Linked DNA regions of Homo sapiens. The protein of the gene in region 3 purifies or fractionates together with the protein of the main gene of each other region. This does not show direct contact. Each region holds a gene or a part of one and is shown on either strand. Other genes may lie near its edges. The genes, in order: APOBEC3F, ELAVL2, RTP3, DIS3L2 and PUM2.

The links.
Region 1: the proteins of RTP3 (region 3) and APOBEC3F purify together in Homo sapiens (affinity purification with mass spectrometry; one large-scale study listed by BioGRID and IntAct). This does not show direct contact.
Region 2: the proteins of RTP3 (region 3) and ELAVL2 purify together in Homo sapiens (affinity purification with mass spectrometry; one large-scale study listed by BioGRID and IntAct). This does not show direct contact.
Region 4: the proteins of RTP3 (region 3) and DIS3L2 purify together in Homo sapiens (affinity purification with mass spectrometry; one large-scale study listed by BioGRID and IntAct). This does not show direct contact.
Region 5: the proteins of RTP3 (region 3) and PUM2 purify together in Homo sapiens (affinity purification with mass spectrometry; one large-scale study listed by BioGRID and IntAct). This does not show direct contact.

The regions. Positions count from the first base shown.
Region 1 is NC_000022.11:39,053,665-39,056,490, reverse strand, and holds the end of APOBEC3F (DNA dC->dU-editing enzyme APOBEC-3F), read right to left. Parts: 3' UTR 519-2,826; downstream 1-518.
Region 2 is NC_000009.12:23,816,229-23,819,749, reverse strand, and holds part of ELAVL2 (ELAV-like protein 2), read left to right. Parts: intron 1-3,521.
Region 3 is NC_000003.12:46,496,744-46,500,793, forward strand, and holds the start of RTP3 (receptor-transporting protein 3), read left to right. Parts: upstream 1-1,232; 5' UTR 1,233-1,319; coding exon 1,320-1,474; intron 1,475-3,612; coding exon 3,613-4,050.
Region 4 is NC_000002.12:232,083,713-232,087,233, forward strand, and holds part of DIS3L2 (DIS3-like exonuclease 2), read left to right. Parts: intron 1-3,521.
Region 5 is NC_000002.12:20,253,334-20,256,854, reverse strand, and holds part of PUM2 (pumilio homolog 2), read left to right. Parts: intron 1-684; coding exon 685-822; intron 823-1,513; coding exon 1,514-1,639; intron 1,640-1,870; coding exon 1,871-1,992; intron 1,993-2,840; coding exon 2,841-3,033; intron 3,034-3,521. UniProt on the Homo sapiens protein: Sequence-specific RNA-binding protein that acts as a post-transcriptional repressor by binding the 3'-UTR of mRNA targets.

The DNA.
Region 1 (2,826 bases), on a different chromosome or scaffold from region 3:
CTTTGTAATATTCTCCCCCACACTTAAGAATGTACTTTGTATGCCTTTAAGAATGTACACTTATAGGTTTGGGATAGGTTTATCCCAAACCTGTAAGAACTAATGATAATCCCACCACCCTTTGCTGACTCCTTTTTCTGGTTCAGCCCACCTGCACCCAGGTGAAATAAACAGCCTTGTTGCTCACACAAAACCTGTTGGTGGTCTCTTCACATGGACACGTGTGACACTGACCTCAAGTGATCTGCCTGCCTTAGCCTCCCAAAGTGCTAGGATTACAGGCGTGAGCCACCACGCCCGACCAAGATGATTAATTTAAATGAGACCTCTAGTGTGGGCACAAATTAATTTGTCTGGGGTCCATAAAGGAGAAGGTCGACCAGGTGCCATGGCTCATGCCTTTAATCCCAGCACTTTAGGAGGCAGAGGTGGGCGTCAGGAATTCGAGACCAGCCTCGCCTGGAATGTACATGGTGATGTAGCAGGAACGGTTGCAGACAAAACCTCTCAGACACCAGTTTTAGGAAGGAAGAGGCTTTAATCAGCTGGGAGCGTTGACAGACTTGCATCTGAAGATTGGAGCTCCCTGAAGAAGTCCCTGGCCCTTTTAAGGGCTTACAATTCTAAGGGGTCCACGTGAAAGGGTCGTGATAGATTGTGCAAGCGTGGGCTACGTGACTGGGGGGCTACATGCATCAGTGGTGGGGGCTAGCAGAACAGACCAGAAAGTTTCACAATGCTTCCTCATACAATGTCTGGAATCTTTAGATAAAACAAGCGGTCAGGTCAGGAGTTGATCTTTAACTACCAGGCCCAGGTAGCAGCGCCAAACAGTCTGGCCATTGATCTTACTTCTGCATCTTTCTAACTTTTTGCTTCCTTCTGAAATAGGAGACAATGAGAGAGGTGGTCTCCTTCCTCAGTGAAACCCCATCTCTACTAAAAAATAGAAAAATTAGCAGAGATTGGTTCTGGGCATCTGTAATCCCAGCTACTCAGGAGGCTGAGGTGGGAGAATTGCTTGAACCCAGCAGGCAGAGGTTGCAGTGAGCAGTGATTCTGCTATTTAGCACTCCAGCCTGGGCAACAGAGTGAAACTCCATCTCAAAAAAAAAAAAAAGTTGTGTATGGTGGCTTATATCTGTAATCCCAGCACTTTGGGAGGCTGAGGAGAGTGGATCGCCTGAGCTCATGAGTTCAAGACCAGCCTGAGCAACATGGAGAAACCCCGTCTCTACTAAAACTACAAAATTAGCCAGGCGTGGTGGCACACGCCTGTAGTCCCAGCTACTCAGGAGGCTGAGGCACGAGAATCGCTTGAACTCGGAAGGCAGAGGTTGCAGTGAGCTGAGATTGTGCCATTGCACTCCAGCCTAGAAAACAAGAGCAAAACTGTCTGAAAAAAAAAAAAAAGATATTTGGAAGCAGAGAGACCCCAGAGGTACAGTACAGGTTCATAGAGGAAAGGCCACAGAGGACACAGCCAGAAGGGATCCCTGCCATCCAGGAGGAGCGGCCTCAGAGCAAACAACCCCGCCGACCCCTCCACCTTGGACTTGTAGCCTCCATATCTGTGAGAAAATAAATGCCTGCCTGTGGCCCGCATTATTCATGTGGGCACCTGGCCCAGGGCATCTTCTGTGGAGGCCACAGCATGAAGGGATCATTTTTATAGAGAATCTCATTCTCTAATAACTTATATCTGCCTAGAAAATGTCAAGTCAAATTTAAAGTGTGGAGAAGGGCCTCTAAATTTCACATTTCATTTGCAAAGAAAGAATTGTAATTTGGGACATACACGCAGTCCGGGTGGTGTTCACCATGTTGGGAGAACAGAGACAGCAACAGGTCCTATTAAAAGGAGAAATGGGCTAGGCGCTGTGGCTCACACCAGCAATCCCAGCAATTTGGGAGGCCAAGGAGGTTGGATCACTTGAGGTCAGGAGTTTAAGACCAGCCTAAGCCTGGCCAGGTGGCTCACGCCTGTAATCCCAGCACTTTGGGAGGCCGAGACGGGTGGATCACGAGGTCAGGAGTTCAAGACCAGCCTGGTCAAGATGTTGAAACCCCGTCTCTACTAAAAACACAAAAATTAGCTAGGCGTGGTGGCACGCGCATGTAATCCCAGCTACTTGGGAGGCTTAGGTAGGAAAATAGCTTGAACTCAGGCGGCAGAGGCTGCAGTGAACCCAGATTGCACCACTGCACCCCAGCCTGGGCAACAGAGCAAGACTCCATCTCAAAAAATAAAATAAAAATAAGACCAGCCTGGGAAACATGATGAAACCCGTTTTTATGAAAAATACAAAAATTAGCCTGGTTTGGTGGTGGACGCCTGTAATCCCAGCTACTCGGGAGGCTGAGACAGGAGAATCACTTGAACAAGGGAGGCAGAGGTTGCAGTGAGCCGAGACCGCACCATTGCACTCCAGCCTGGGTGACAGGGCGAGACTCCATTTCAAAGAAAAAAAAAAAGAAAAGGAGAAATGTTCTCTTGTCCTATGGGAAAGCCCATGGGCACTAGGAAGGGTTGGGAACTGGGAGGTTCCATTGCTGAATAGCTGCGATTATAGCAAGGAGTCCAAGACTTACAGCCATTTATTGCAGAAGCTATGGATAAAGCTGGTTTCAGGGTACAATGCACAGTTTCAGGAGTCAGGCTTGCAGAGAAGTCCATTTTGGGAGCAATGGTGTGTGGCCTGACTGCTTTTCCTCCCTGGCTCCTGGGCTCTGTTTTAGCTGCGTAGGACATGAATGACCCAATTTGTAGGATGAAAGTTAACAAAGGATGTTTCTCAAAACTTCTGGTTTTCAACTTACATACCC
Region 2 (3,521 bases), on a different chromosome or scaffold from region 3:
TTGAGAGAGTATTTTTATTTTTGTGTGGTTAAAACCAGCCCCTTGTTGCCTGTTATTTGGGTAACTTTGTGCTGCCACCTTTCAGGGAGTTAGTTGTTTTTTTCTTCCTTTGAAAGACAACTTTAGGTGTTAAGCCCCTCCCTCTTCCTTATCTGTAGGTGTTTCCTTCATTGTGTAGTGTCTTCTTTCAGGAACAATCAAGTCAGCTATATTCAGTGCTCACACACTTTCCCTGTGGTTCAAGATAATTTTAGTTATAGGATATGCTTCTTGTTTAGAGCAAGTACCCACTGCTGGTCAGTGTCTACCACTCTTTTGACACTCAGTGTCAAAAGGTTACTATGGAACCTTTTTTCTTTTCTAGGCCTAAGATGTGTTTTTATAGATCCTCTCTGATTTAGTTTTTTTGGTTGATTTGTTCTGGTTACCGCCTCTTCACAAGAGAAAAACAAAGCCTTTCTGTCCCAGTTTCAGTGGTTTTAGTTAAGACTCAGCTCCTGGTAGGTTAAGGGAGAATGATGCTGTGAGTGTCATATACCATCATTCCTTGAATCAACCTTTTGATTATTTATACACAGACAGATGCTGCTAGCTGAATCCTTGTAACCAACCGCTCTTGGCTCTTCCAGCCTTCCCTGCTTATCTTTTAAAAATAATGTGCCTCCCCTCCTGCCACCCCACTTCTATTCTAGAAGCAAGTCTTAGGTTCTCTTTAAGGACACAGCAAAGCCTTCCAGAATATCCTGACTTTTAAGCTGGGATCAACCTTTTCCTCTTTCTTTGCTGAAAGACATTTTTTTAAAAAACCTGTGACGCTTTTCAGGCATTATTGGCATTGCACAAGAGCACCACAGTGGCAAATTAGCCTTCATGTTCTTTTTCCCCAAAGGACTAGATACTCTGAAATAGCTTCTTAAGCTTCTTATCAAGACTGACTTTACCATTCCCCTTTTTGATGACTTGTCTGCATGGTAGCATCAGTATTTTCGCTCCCATTTGATGTCTTATTAAATCTATCACATCGTCACATTCTTATTGCCACTTTTATCACTCATAATGTTTATTTGGAATTGAGAGAGGCTAGAATCTGTGGTACTTAGCTTGGTTTGGTTACTTTTTTGTTGACATTTTAAGGGGGCTAGATGGTGTGCCACCCTGTGGAAAACCTGCCCATCTCAGTCTACCCCCAGCTCTTTGTTTCTTGGCTACTCAGCTGGACAGGTCAAAAATGATAGTAAGCTACCACATTTGAGTGTGTGTGGGGGGAGGTTAATTTTATTTTTGGCGTGAGTACTTAGTTATGGGCAGGACTGCTTTTCCAGCTTGTAACCGGTATGGTTGCACATCCTACCCAATCTTGAAATTCTTAAGAATTTTTGGACAAGGTTACCCTGCATTTTCATCTTGCACTGGGACCCACAGATTACGTAGCTTTTCCTGGTTAGTTGCCTTCCCACTTGTTAGTATTTAGCTGTCAGTATTGCTGCTTTGTTGATATATTATAGAACTGTTTGAAGGCTTTATGTCTAGTGATGCCACACCTGACTATCAAATTCACTATGGAGGACATAAAATGCATAAAATTTTTTCTTGCTTTGGCCATTTTCATTTTACAGGTGTAGAAGTCTTCACCGGTTCTGGTTACGCACAGAGCCCACATATTGTAGTTCAGTGCCAAATCCACACTTTTGTATGTTCTAATTTGGGAAGAACATTTATTGTATATTTATTTGGTTCGAGATACTAGACGGTTTATAGTGCTAGTTAATTATTTAAGGATTTCACATAACGTAAATTTGCCAAGTGGAAACAGAAGACACTTAAGCTTGAAAGGCAGTGCTTATTTTAAGGCTTTTACATATTAAAAGATAAGTGTTTTATTATGATTTAAATGATAACTTTTGGAGTCTGAATTAAAAGTCAAAGTTTGCGTAATAAAATCTTAGATTTTTGTGGGGTACTTAGGACATTTTTCACTAGTAAATTTAACAGATTTGGCTTTCAGCTTGTGTGATGTGTATCATATGTTTCATTTTAGTAAGGCTAGAAGAATTTTTTATTTCAAGGGAAGAATTTTTTTTATCTCTAAGCTTGTATTCCATTGTGCAAAACAAAACAAAAGGTAACTCTTGTGTGAGCAACGCTGTGCTAAATGCATTCTCATAGACATCTTCATCTTTAATATCAATGTTAAGTTTCTAGAGATTGGTCTTAATAAAAATAACTATTTTTGCAACGAGCATTCTTTTCTCAGAGCTTTGAGTTAGGCTCTCAATGCGTGAACTGAATTGATATGCTTAATGACATGGTACCTTTTTGAATATTGCTGAATAGTTCTGTGTGACAACAGATACAGGTTTTCGTTGTAAGAAATCTTTATGAAGAGAAGGATGGGGGCTTTGAGGAGTAAAATAGGTAAAATAACCCAGAAAGTCATAAGAATAGGTGGAATGGGGATAAAACTAAACCAGTTTATAGAATGCCTTACAGTGTCTTTTTTTTAAATAAACTTGCAGTTTCTTAGTATATATTTATATTACTGATATCTATTACATCAGTTTCTGACTGAAAATGAATAGGAGATAAGGTCTGACATGCAAAATCCCCTTTCCCACTTTTAAAAATGTATTTTAAAAAACTTGACAAATTTAAAATTATACTTACTGTAAGACAGTAACAGTAAAATGATAGGTTTTTTTTTTTAAGACACAGTGAAGGTTTTGCTTTAGCACTGGTATATTTTGAACCAGGTATGTTATCTACAGTTTGATGTACCTGTATATTTTTCCGTTGGCCAATCTAATACAGATGCTCCTGATAAACCCATTGCAAGTTGAAAATGGCATTAAGTTAAAAATGTATTTAATACGCCTAACCTACTGAATATCAGAGCTTAGTCTAGCCTACCTTAAACATGCTCAGAACATTTATGTTATAGTTGGGCAAAATCATCTGGCAACACAGAGTATCCATTTTTCACTCTCATGATCCATTGCCTGAGTGGGAGCTGTGGCTTGCTACCATTGCCCTATATCGAGAGAGTCTCTTACCATAGACTGCTAGCCCGGGAAAGGATCAAAATTCAAAATATAGTTTCTCCTAAACGTGTGTTACTTTTATATCACCATACAGTTGAAAAATCGTAAGTTTGAACCATCATAAATTGGGGACCATCTGTAGTGATAGATTTAATCCTTGGGTTTTTCCTTTGACTTAAAAAGTTTATCATGAAAGGGAAATTTATATTCTAAATGTTCTTTTCTTCCAGCATTTTGTTTTTGTGGGTTGTTCATTATTGGAGATTATTTCAGCAACTTTAAAGACTATGTTAATAGGATATCACAAAAATCTTTTATAAATATCAAAGCAATAAACTATTCCTTCAAGATGGATTTTTATCCCCTTTTTTTTTTTTTTTTTTTTTTTTTTTTTACTGAAAGCTTTTAGTACACACTTTCTTGACTAATTTCATCTCTTTATGGGACTAGGGAATGATAGTTGTTTTGAGATTCTTAGCTTTC
Region 3 (4,050 bases):
TAGTTAGCAGTTTAAAATCAATAAAGTGTAACAACTATTTACATAGCATTTACATTGTATTAGGTATTATAAGTAATCTAGAGATCAATTAAAGTATACAGAAGGATGTGCATAGATTATATGCAAATACTATGTCATTTTGTATAAGGGACCTGAGCATCTGAGGATTTTGCTATCTGCAGGGGGCGCTGGAACCAATCCACCTGGAACTGAGGGACAGCTCTAATGCTGAGAAACAAAACTGGCTTGGAAAGAGGGGAGACCCAGGACTTGAGCCTGCCGAGGAGCTAAACCCAAGGGCAAGAGCTGCAGGCAGCTGGGCTGGAGAGGAGGAAGGAGGTGGCTTTGTTTCCAACTGCCCTGGAAGACCTCCTCATCCCCCTGCATCCCCAGCCTCCTTTCCTTTTTCCTTCCTGCTCTGCTCCCTTCCTTCCTCTCCTCCTCTTGGGAGGTGGCCAGGGACATAGGTCAGTGCCTGGCCCCGAGGAAGACACATGCAGTTTGTGGACGGGTCTTGGGATGCGGACACCCAGAGTCTTGTGCACCTTCCTGGAGTGTTGCCCACTCCAGTACCCACTCCCTAATCTCCCCTCTTCCTCCTCAATCCTCTCTTGCAGGAAGCAGAGGATGGAGAACCCCCTCAGGAAGGAGGGCAGTGACTCTGGGTTTGCCTAGGGCTAATGGCCTCTCACCGACCTGTGCCCTTGTACCTGTCGCCTGGGCAAACAGTGATTGCATCAGCTTTGGTTTCTCATGGGTGGGCAGCCTTGGCTGTCTGCCGGAACGTAAAGAGCATGGAGCAAGGACATGGGAATCCGAATCCCGCTGAGGTCCCAGGACCACTTCATCCTTCTTCCCTGTGCCTCTCCTCCCCAGCATGAGCACAGCAGCCTGATGGAGAAGGATTTTCCAATGTTAGAACTGGAAAGAACACCTGTAGCCTGTCTCCACCGTTTACAGTGGTGCTGGAAGTGAAAAGATGTGTTCCAGGTCACAGGCAGGTAGACAGCGGAGCCAGACTGAAATTCACTCCTCCTGATTTGGAGTTTAGAGCTCTTCTTTGGCAACATTTTGATGAATAAAATCACAAGTTCTGTGTCTTTTGAAATTCCTTGTGGAGCCTAGTGCCATCCTCTGAACTTGGAGCCAACTGACCTTTGTCCTTGGGGCAGAGACATGGTTCATGGGCCCAATCCAGGTCCTCAAAGGGAGGGCAGGTCTGAGTCCTTGCCCTCTGAAGTCAGAAACCTCATCTCCCACTACAGACCTGCCAGGGCCCAGGAGAGCTCGACCCACCCAGGCACACCATAGCCCCAGAGATGGCTGGGGACACAGAAGTGTGGAAGCAAATGTTTCAGGAGTTAATGCGGGAGGTGAAGCCATGGCACAGGTGGACCCTGAGACCAGACAAGGGCCTTCTTCCCAACGTCCTGAAGCCAGGCTGGATGCAATACCAGCAGTGGACCTTCGCCAGGTGAGGGGGAATGTGATGGTACACGTTCCAGAAAATTCTTGCACATTTCTTACTAGGTATACCTGTTACTTTTCTTGTTCTATTCTGTGCTTTCAAATTGAAGACTATGGGTAATAAGATGCCCATCATCCAAGAAGTTGTAACTTCATTAAAGATCGTTTTTTCACTATTACAATGAACCCCAAAGCAAGAGCAGGCCTGAGCACCCTTGTGAGCTAATGCCTGGATACAGAGAAATCAGTCTGTGGGGGTGGGGAGAGGGAGCAGCCAGGAAAGGGGAGGGGAGGAAGGGCAGCTGTTGCACCCACGGGCGGTGCATGTGCCCCATGCCTAGGGAGACTGCTGGACCCACCTTGGAGCCCCTAGGAGGAGAGACTCACGGCACTGAGCAGACACCCTCGGGGGAGGCCGGAGGAGCAGGGGGCCTGGGCAACAGGCAGCAATCCTGCCCCTCTCTACTCTGAGCTGATAGAATCTTTTTAAAATAGGAGTCTTAGAAATCATCCTAAGCCTCATCCTCTCTTTCCCAGGTGGAAATGGGGAGCCCCAAGGCTTGGGGCTGATTGCCCACAGTGCACAGAGGGTGGAGGCCGGGTCCCACCCGCTGTCCCCTCCCAGGGAGAGTCTACATAGAGGGGGCAGAGCTCTCCCACTGGCCTATGGCTATCCCAGGCCAGGAGCTGCCATAGGGAGCATTGCACCAAAGTCTCAGTCCATTTATCCATGGGAAGTTTGAACTCTGAACAAGCACAGGAACAGAGCACTGAGACCCAGGGGATGGCAGTGGACTTCTGCTCAGAACAGGGCCCAGGCCCCTCTGCACTGCTGACTCTGGGTGACTCCCAGCAAGGTCCTCTCACAGTGATCACAGCTTCTTGGCCTCTCCCTCTCATTTCAACCTTGCATTCACCCTGTGGGTTGCGGCTAGAGTCAAGATACAGGAGCACACCCTGGACTAACTCCCTCTTCCCAGCCCCCTCCAATTCACCACCTGCAGCCTAATTTCTCTGTATCCAGGCATCGGGGGCTCAGCCACAGTGACAAATAAACCTGGAAATATCACTGATTTAACCTTACACGTGGCTCCCAAGGTCACCGAAGCAGAGGAGGAGAGAGCTGGAATGTCTTACCAAGGCTTCTGTGACCATATCTGGAAGGAACATATATCACTGCTGGCCTCATCTCATTGCCCAACTGGTCCCATGGCCCCAGCCTCACGGCAAAGGGGCTGGGAAGTGGGAGGGAGTGCATGGATAATTTGGTGAGCATTAAATGTCTCCGCCACAGTGCAGCTCTCTGCCTCTCCCATAATTCCTTTCCCAGGTGCAGCCATGTGCTTCCTGCCTTCTTCTCTCTCTACCTCCTGACATGTATTTGTCCAGATACCTTAGCTCAAAAACTGCCCTCCTCCCTGCTGAGACAAGGTGTATTATCTTGTATCCTGTCTGAAGCCAGTGGCATTCAGAATATGAAGTTTTCCAGGCTACCTTGAGCAAGGGAACTGGGTTGGAGGGGAAACAAATGAAGAGAGAGCTGGACACTGTGATCTCCCTGCAATACCGCAGACCAGGGACCCTCGGCAGCCAAGAGAAAGGCAAAGGCTTTCCTCTAGGAGAACCCTGGACACTTCAGGCTCCCACCGCCAACCCATGAGTCTATAACTTAATCAACACCCACCTATAGGCATTTGTGGATTTCAGGGTCCTGAACTGAACTGGCTGCTGTTGCAGTTGTGGCCTCTGACCCATTTGAATCTACATTTGAAGAAGCTTTGCTTTGGAATAGGGAGACCACAGTCCCAGTCATGCCTTTTTACACCCACTGGGTCTCTGGACATGAGGAGTTTCCAGAGTGTGCCTCATCTCTAAAATGGACGTGTTGGACTTAGAAGATGCCCAAGGTCCCTCCCAGATCTAACAGCTTGCAATTCACTGTTTTCATAGCAGACACTGTGCAGCATGCAGTGTGTCAGTGGCACAATGGAGATGGGAAAGAGGTCTTAGCAATTTCTTCCACCACTGAGCCACAGCCCCAGTCAAGTCATGTCTCTGTGCAGTCGGTAGCTCCTTTCTCTCTCTGGCAGTTCCCCGTGATTTGGTCACATGGAGCCAGGCTGAGACTCTCTTCTGTCTCCACAGGTTCCAGTGCTCCTCCTGCTCTCGTAACTGGGCCTCTGCCCAAGTTCTGGTCCTTTTCCACATGAACTGGAGTGAGGAGAAGTCCAGGGGCCAGGTGAAGATGAGGGTGTTTACCCAGAGATGTAAGAAGTGCCCCCAACCTCTGTTTGAGGACCCTGAGTTCACACAAGAGAACATCTCAAGGATCCTGAAAAACCTGGTGTTCCGAATTCTGAAGAAATGCTATAGAGGAAGATTTCAGTTGATAGAGGAGGTTCCTATGATCAAGGACATCTCTCTTGAAGGGCCACACAATAGTGACAACTGTGAGGCATGTCTGCAGGGCTTCTGTGCTGGGCCCATACAGGTTACAAGCCTCCCCCCATCTCAGACCCCAAGAGTACACTCCATTTACAAGGTGGAGGAGGTAGTTAAGCCCTGGGCCTCAGGAGAGAATGT
Region 4 (3,521 bases), on a different chromosome or scaffold from region 3:
TTGAACTCCTGACTGCAAGTGATCTGCCTGCATTGTCCTTCCAAAGTGCTGGGATTACAGGTGTGAGCCACCACGCCAGGCCCATAATGTCTTTCCAGGAGACTACCTTTTACCTGCTAGACCAACTGCAGCATGACAGTTGCTTTCTTGCCCAGAACTTCTCTCTCTGAGATAAAGTATGTATGGGGATGATACAGGAAAAACCATTAAACCCGAGATTGTATATAGCCACCATGCTTTAGACATAGGGTATACACCTGTGCCTTCTGCCTGTGCTTAGGCTGCTCTGACAGTACCCAAGGTTGTATTAGTTCTTTGAGGATGGTCAGGGGCAGATGTTCCTAAATATTTCTGAATTTGCCAGGCATATTTAAGGAAATTGAATGAATTTGTTGATTTGAGTGATATCGGATTCTTTTTCTGCTGTAACTTGTCAGTAAATTTTCTTATTTTTGGATGATCTTCTTTGGGTCAGTTATGAAAACAAGGCTTATGTGGTAAAGCAGAAGTGCAGATGGGGGAGCTGGTTTTTTAATTGTACAGGCTGTGTATTCCTTATCCAGAATAAGGAATTCTTATCCAAAATAAGGTCCTTTTTGGGACCAGAAGTGTTTTTTTTGGGTTTGGGATGTTTTTCGGATTTTGGAATATTTACATTATACCAGTTGAGCATCCTAAATCCTAAAATCTGAAATCTGAAATGCTTCACTGAGCATATCTTTTGATTGTCATGTTGATGCTCAAAAAGTTTCAGATTTCAGACCATTTTGGATTTTCAGATTAGGGATGTTCAACCTGTGTATCAGTGCCCTAGCTGTAGCTTCACTCACATGAGCTCTTGCAGGAAGGGCCCTGCGGGAATCTTTTTGGAGATTGCTGGCCTGGCCAGTAGAACTTTTTTGTAGTATTAAAGAGAGGGAGATATGTCTGTTTCTAACTTCCCATTGACAGATGAATGGACAAATGAATGTATGAATCTGACATGAGTCAAAACAAGCAAAAAAGAAAATTTTATTAAATATACTCAGGGACTGGGAACCAAGTTTTTAAAAAAGTTTGCTCAAAAGTTTTGAGCACAGTTTTGCTCAAAAAAAAAAAAGCATTGTTTACAAGTTTTTCTATTACTATATTTTTATGGAGTCAATTTTTACAAACTGAGGATATATTCTTACCTTTATTCTGATCGTTCTTTGTAATATTTTACTTTGGTTTTCTGAGTTGATATTATAATATTAATTGTCTAGGAATGGTTATGTTAATTGAACCTACTGTATTAAAATGCTTTAGGAAAGATTTAATAACTTTTTCTCTCTTGTATAAGGTGAAGATCTTTCACTAAGCATGATCTTTGTGTTACTTTTAATTAGAACATTAGACCTATCAAATATAAACATGGTGAAACTGCTAGAGCTCTCTTACTTCATTCAGGTCTCTGCTCAAATGCTGCTTCCTCTAAGCAGTATTTCCTAATCACCCTACTGATAAACTAGGCACACCCTCTCCATTATTCTCTCATTTACTTAACGAGCTTTCTCATTCTTTCAATATATTTAATTGCGCTTCTCACTAGTCGACTTTTGATTGTGTTCACTGTTCTGCCCTTGGCACCTAGAACAGTTTCTGGCACCATGAAAGGGACTCCATAATGACTTGTTGAATGAGTAAATTGTTCATCATTTGTCACCCCACTAGGATGTAGGACTCATGACGGTGCCTGGCACGAGGTGGGCATTCCAACATTTGTTTGAAAGAATAAAAGGAATGTTTACAAGTAGTGATCAAATTCATTTTTTATATTTATGTATATACAGGTGATCATTTAAGTTTTAATTATATGTTTAAATTGAACATAGGTATTTATCATATAGAAATAGATTATTAAAAAGGATGCAGTATTCAAGTAACATCCAAGAACCTACAAAATCTGCTGCTTTTTTGCTAATGTGGATGGGCAGATTTACATGTAGGGTCACAATTTTTTTCAGTGACTCAATAACACCTGGTGTATTTTAATATAGTGTCCATAGACATCAGAGTGCTGTATGTGACAAACTCATAAAATGGATTAGTATCTGGATTGGTTTTTTATTTTATTTTATTTTATTTTTTTTAGAGCTAGAATATCCCTTTGTCGCCCAGGCTGGAGTGCTGTGGCGTGATCATAGCTTACTGTAACTCCTAACTCCTAGGCTCAAGTAATCTTCCCACTTCAGCCTCCCAAGTAGCTAGGACTACAGGCGCCCTGCCCCCCAACTATGCCTGGTTGATTTTTAAATTTTTTTTAGAGGCAAGGTCTCAATATGTTGCCCAGGCCGGTCTTAAACTCCTCCTGCCTTGGCCTCCCATAGCTCTGAGATTACAGGTGTGAGTCACTGTGCCTGGCCTGGATTTTTTTCCTCTACTTGCTTCATTAGTATTGTAGTGTAAATGTCCATCAGTGTGTGTGTGCTTTATACGTATATACGTATATATACACACGTATAGACGTGTATACGTATATATACACACGTATAGACGTGTATACGTATATATACACACGTATAGACGTGTATACGTGTATATACATATACGTATATATGTATACATATATACATATGTATATGTATATGCATATGCATATGTATATATACATATATGTATATATATGTGTATATGTATATGTATATGTATATGTATATGTATATGTGTATATATACATATACATGCAGAGAAAGACCTTTCACTGTGAGAAAGTTCAGCCTGCAGATTGTATAACAAAGTCAGAATTCTGGTACCTGTGATATTTTCTCCATGGTTGATGGGAACCAAATCCTTTGTGGAACCATTAGTGGCAGAAATAAATACATAATAGAAACTAAAGGCCTGAGCCTTTAAATATATATATATATATGTGTGTGTGTGTATATATATATATATACACATATATATATATGTATATATATATATATGTGTGTGTGTGTGTGTGTATATATATATTTTTTGAGACAGAGTCTCGCTCTGTCACCCAGACTGGATGGAGTGCAGTGGTGCCATCTCGGCTCGCTGCAAGCTCCGCCTCCTGGGTTCACACCATTCTCCTGCCTCAGCCTCCCAAGTAGCTGGGACTACAGGCACCCGCCACAACTCCTGGCTAATTTTTTTATATTTTTAGTAGAGACAGAGTTTCACCGTGTTAGCCAGGATGGTCTCAATCTCCTGACCTCATGATCCGCCCGCCTCAGCCTCCCAAAAGTGCTGGGATTACAGGCTTGAGCCACCGCGCCTGGCCAATAAAGCTTTATATTTTTATAAGAACATTTTATAAACTCTTGTTCACACTTAATTTTGTTTTTTTTCCACTTCATCTTGTATTCTTGTGGTTTCCTTGGTTTCCTTTAGGAACACTGTGGCATACTTTGTTGAGTTCTTTTATCATTCCCTAACTTACTAATTGTTCCTATATGGTGAGGGTTTATGAAGCAGCATGGTACTACTTCTGGTATTCAGGGCCTTTGGGGAGAGGGGATGAAAATGTAGATCAG
Region 5 (3,521 bases), on a different chromosome or scaffold from region 3:
GGCTGGTCTCAAAACTCCTGAGCTCAGGTGATCCACCAGCCTCAGGCTCCCAAAGTGCTGGGATTACAGGTGTGAGCCATCGCATCTGGCTATAAGCACTTTATTATAAGAGCATTTTATAAAAGAACAAAGATACCTGACATTAATTCTTCCCTTAGGGAATTATTGAGATAATATGTAAAAATCATAGCCCATAAGTAGTCATCAACTTCTTAGCCTTTTCTATGTACTTGATAAACTCACTCAGCCATTAAAAATAATTCCTTTGGTGGTGGAGGTGGTACTAAGTAAGGCGGAAGTGTGTAATTCTGAATTAGTCATGTTAGTTACCGCCCGATAAATATTAGCGGATGATTTACACAGTGAAGACAGTTTAAATACAGCAAGTTCAGCATCACTACGTTGTTTCAACATACATCATTTACATTATAATCCTGCAGTGTGTTTTAGTAATTTTCACTTTTCAATGGTTTCTGCTAATTATACTACAAGAGAAAAAAATTTAAACCCTTGACAAACAGGAAATAATATTTGTGAATATATTTGTGTTCCCATCTCAGTATTTTTAATACTGAGATAAATATACTGAGATTTTTAATATTTTTAATTTTTAATACTGAGATAAAATATACTAGTATTTTCTCGTTTGAGGTAATAATTTAAATGACATCCTGTCTTTTGCAGAGTGAAATGGTAAAGGAGCTGGATGGTCATGTGCTCAAATGTGTGAAAGATCAGAATGGAAACCATGTTGTACAAAAATGTATCGAATGTGTTCAGCCACAGTCACTACAGTTCATCATTGATGCTTTCAAGGGACAAGTATGTTTGAGTTTTGGCTTATAATTTGTTAGCAGGGCATTATTTTAGAATTTTGAATATCAACACGTTTTTCATGAGTCACTAGATAATACCCAGCAATTGTATACAAAAATAGGATACAAAACAGTAAATGTACATTAATTTCTTCCTCTTTCATAGTCAGTAGATAGCTTCATTTTTCTGAAGCTGCAAAACAAATAGTTTAATCACATTACTTTAAGAAGTAAAGGTAATCACTGTTAGAATTGTTTTTTATTTATACCCAACGATGTTTTCAGGTTTACTCAGAGAAGGGAAGGAGGTTTGGAGAAAGACATAAGACTGTATAATAAGACAGAAAACACATAGCAATTTGTAACTAATACATAGTAATTAATATTTCTTAATGCTGAACTACCCTTTCTCTTTTCACCCATTCATTCCCATTGTTACATAACCTCAGGTTCAGGTAAAGTTCTGGTTAGGTTCCTTTTGATCAAAATATCTTCAGCTCCTAAATGGAGTGCTCCCTGTCCCCACTCTCCAGTCTTTTCTAACATGGTGGTAGTCATATTAAATGTGAGTTCATCACCCTTCTATTTCAAACTGCTTTTAGGTGTTGTCAAAAAAAAAAAAAACAAACCAGTCTGCTTCATAGAACTGTTCAAAAATGTCAGAGAATACAAATTTTAATTCTTCTAATTGTCCTCAGGTATTTGTGCTTTCAACTCATCCTTATGGCTGCAGAGTAATTCAGCGCATCCTAGAGCATTGCACTGCAGAACAGACCTTACCTATCTTAGAAGAACTCCACCAACATACAGAGCAGTTGGTACAGGTATAAATTCCCTAATAATTTGAAATGTTTATATATTTTTGGAAATTGTTTTAATTTTTAAAAGAAATACAATTTGTTACTAAACACACTATAGACAAGAGTGAGACAAAAGGCTGTTGTATTCTCCTAACTATCCTACTGGATTTTTAGATGAAATGATTAACATGTCTTTAAAGAATATCATTCTTAAGGAATGACTTAGGGAAAGTAATTTTTAAATATCTGTCTTAGGATCAGTATGGCAATTATGTTATTCAGCATGTACTGGAACACGGTCGACCTGAAGACAAGAGCAAAATTGTTTCCGAAATCAGGGGAAAGGTTTTAGCCCTGAGTCAACACAAATTTGCCAGGTATTGTAATACTTTGTAATTTTAAGGGTCAATTCTTTCAACTCATTGACTTTTATTAGTTATCACAGAAATACGTGTAGCATGTAGCATTAAACTGTAGTCTTTTTTTTTTGGTATCATTAAAATGCACCTATAGAACATTGCTTTTGTTTTTTAAAAAAATCTACATAACAAATTTGTTTTGCCCACATATGTTCATTTATGAAATCTGTATTTGGAAAATAATTACTCCCGACACTGGAAATGCAGATTTATTTAGTACATGTTTCTTGAAAACCTCACAGCTTTAATGATCTGGTTTCCTTTTTTTTGAAGTACAATTTTAAGAGACCTGTAATTAAACTTGTGGATGTCAAAATGATGTAGGTTGTTCCAAGATACCAATTTCTGTTATAAAAGTAATTGGCTGGGTACAGTGTCTCACACGTGTAATCCCAGCCAGCACTTTGGGAGATCAAGGCAGGAGGATCAGTCGAGCCCAGGAATTCGAGATCAGCCTGGACAACATAGAGGGAGATCCTTTCTCTACAAAAAATTATCCAGGCGTGGTGGCGCATGCCTGTAGTCTCAGCTATGGGGGAGGCTGAGGTGGGAGAATCACTTCAGCAAGGGAGGTCAAGGCTGCAGTGAGCGGTGATAGCATCACTGCACTCCAGCCCGGGTGACAGAACAAGACCCTGTCTCAAAAAAAAAAAGAACAAAATAAAATAAAAGTAATCATAAGACAAGAGAATCCCATCCTGACTTCTGTTTTATTGTTCATTGGAGAAGATTCTTTCTATAAGTCAAGGAAATTTTGCTGTGAAGAAAAAAATAACAAATCTTTGTTTATCTGCTTTAATTTTTAGCAATGTAGTAGAAAAGTGTGTTACTCATGCCTCCCGTGCTGAGAGAGCTTTACTGATTGACGAGGTTTGCTGCCAGAATGATGGTCCTCACAGTGCCTTATACACCATGATGAAGGACCAGTATGCCAATTACGTGGTTCAAAAGATGATTGATATGGCTGAACCTGCTCAGAGAAAGATAATCATGCACAAGGTAATACAGCATGTAACACTCAGATAACTGTTTGTCTTTGTGTTTAGGCTACACATTTAACCTCCTTGGGCTTTCATTTCCTCCCGTATGTTATAACTGGAGGAAAAATTAAAATCGATGGATATCCTTTGGCAGATATATTGGTATGGTTTCCATTTTTATGCTTAAGGTTATCATGGCCAGGCATGGGGGCTTTTGCCCATAATTCCAGCAGATTGGGAGGCTGAGGTGACAAGATCACTTGAGCCCAGGAGTTTGAGACCAGCCTGAGCAATGTGGCAAGACCCTCCCTCTACAAAAAAAAAAAAAGAAAAACAATTAGACAAGCATCATGGTGCAACCCTTTAGTCCCAGCTACTTGGGAGGCTGTGGTGGGAGACCACTTGAGCCCAGGAGTTCAAGACCAGTCTGGACAACATAGACCCCCATCTCTACAAAAAATTTAAAAATTAGCTGGGTATGACGATACATGCCTGTGGTCCCAGCTA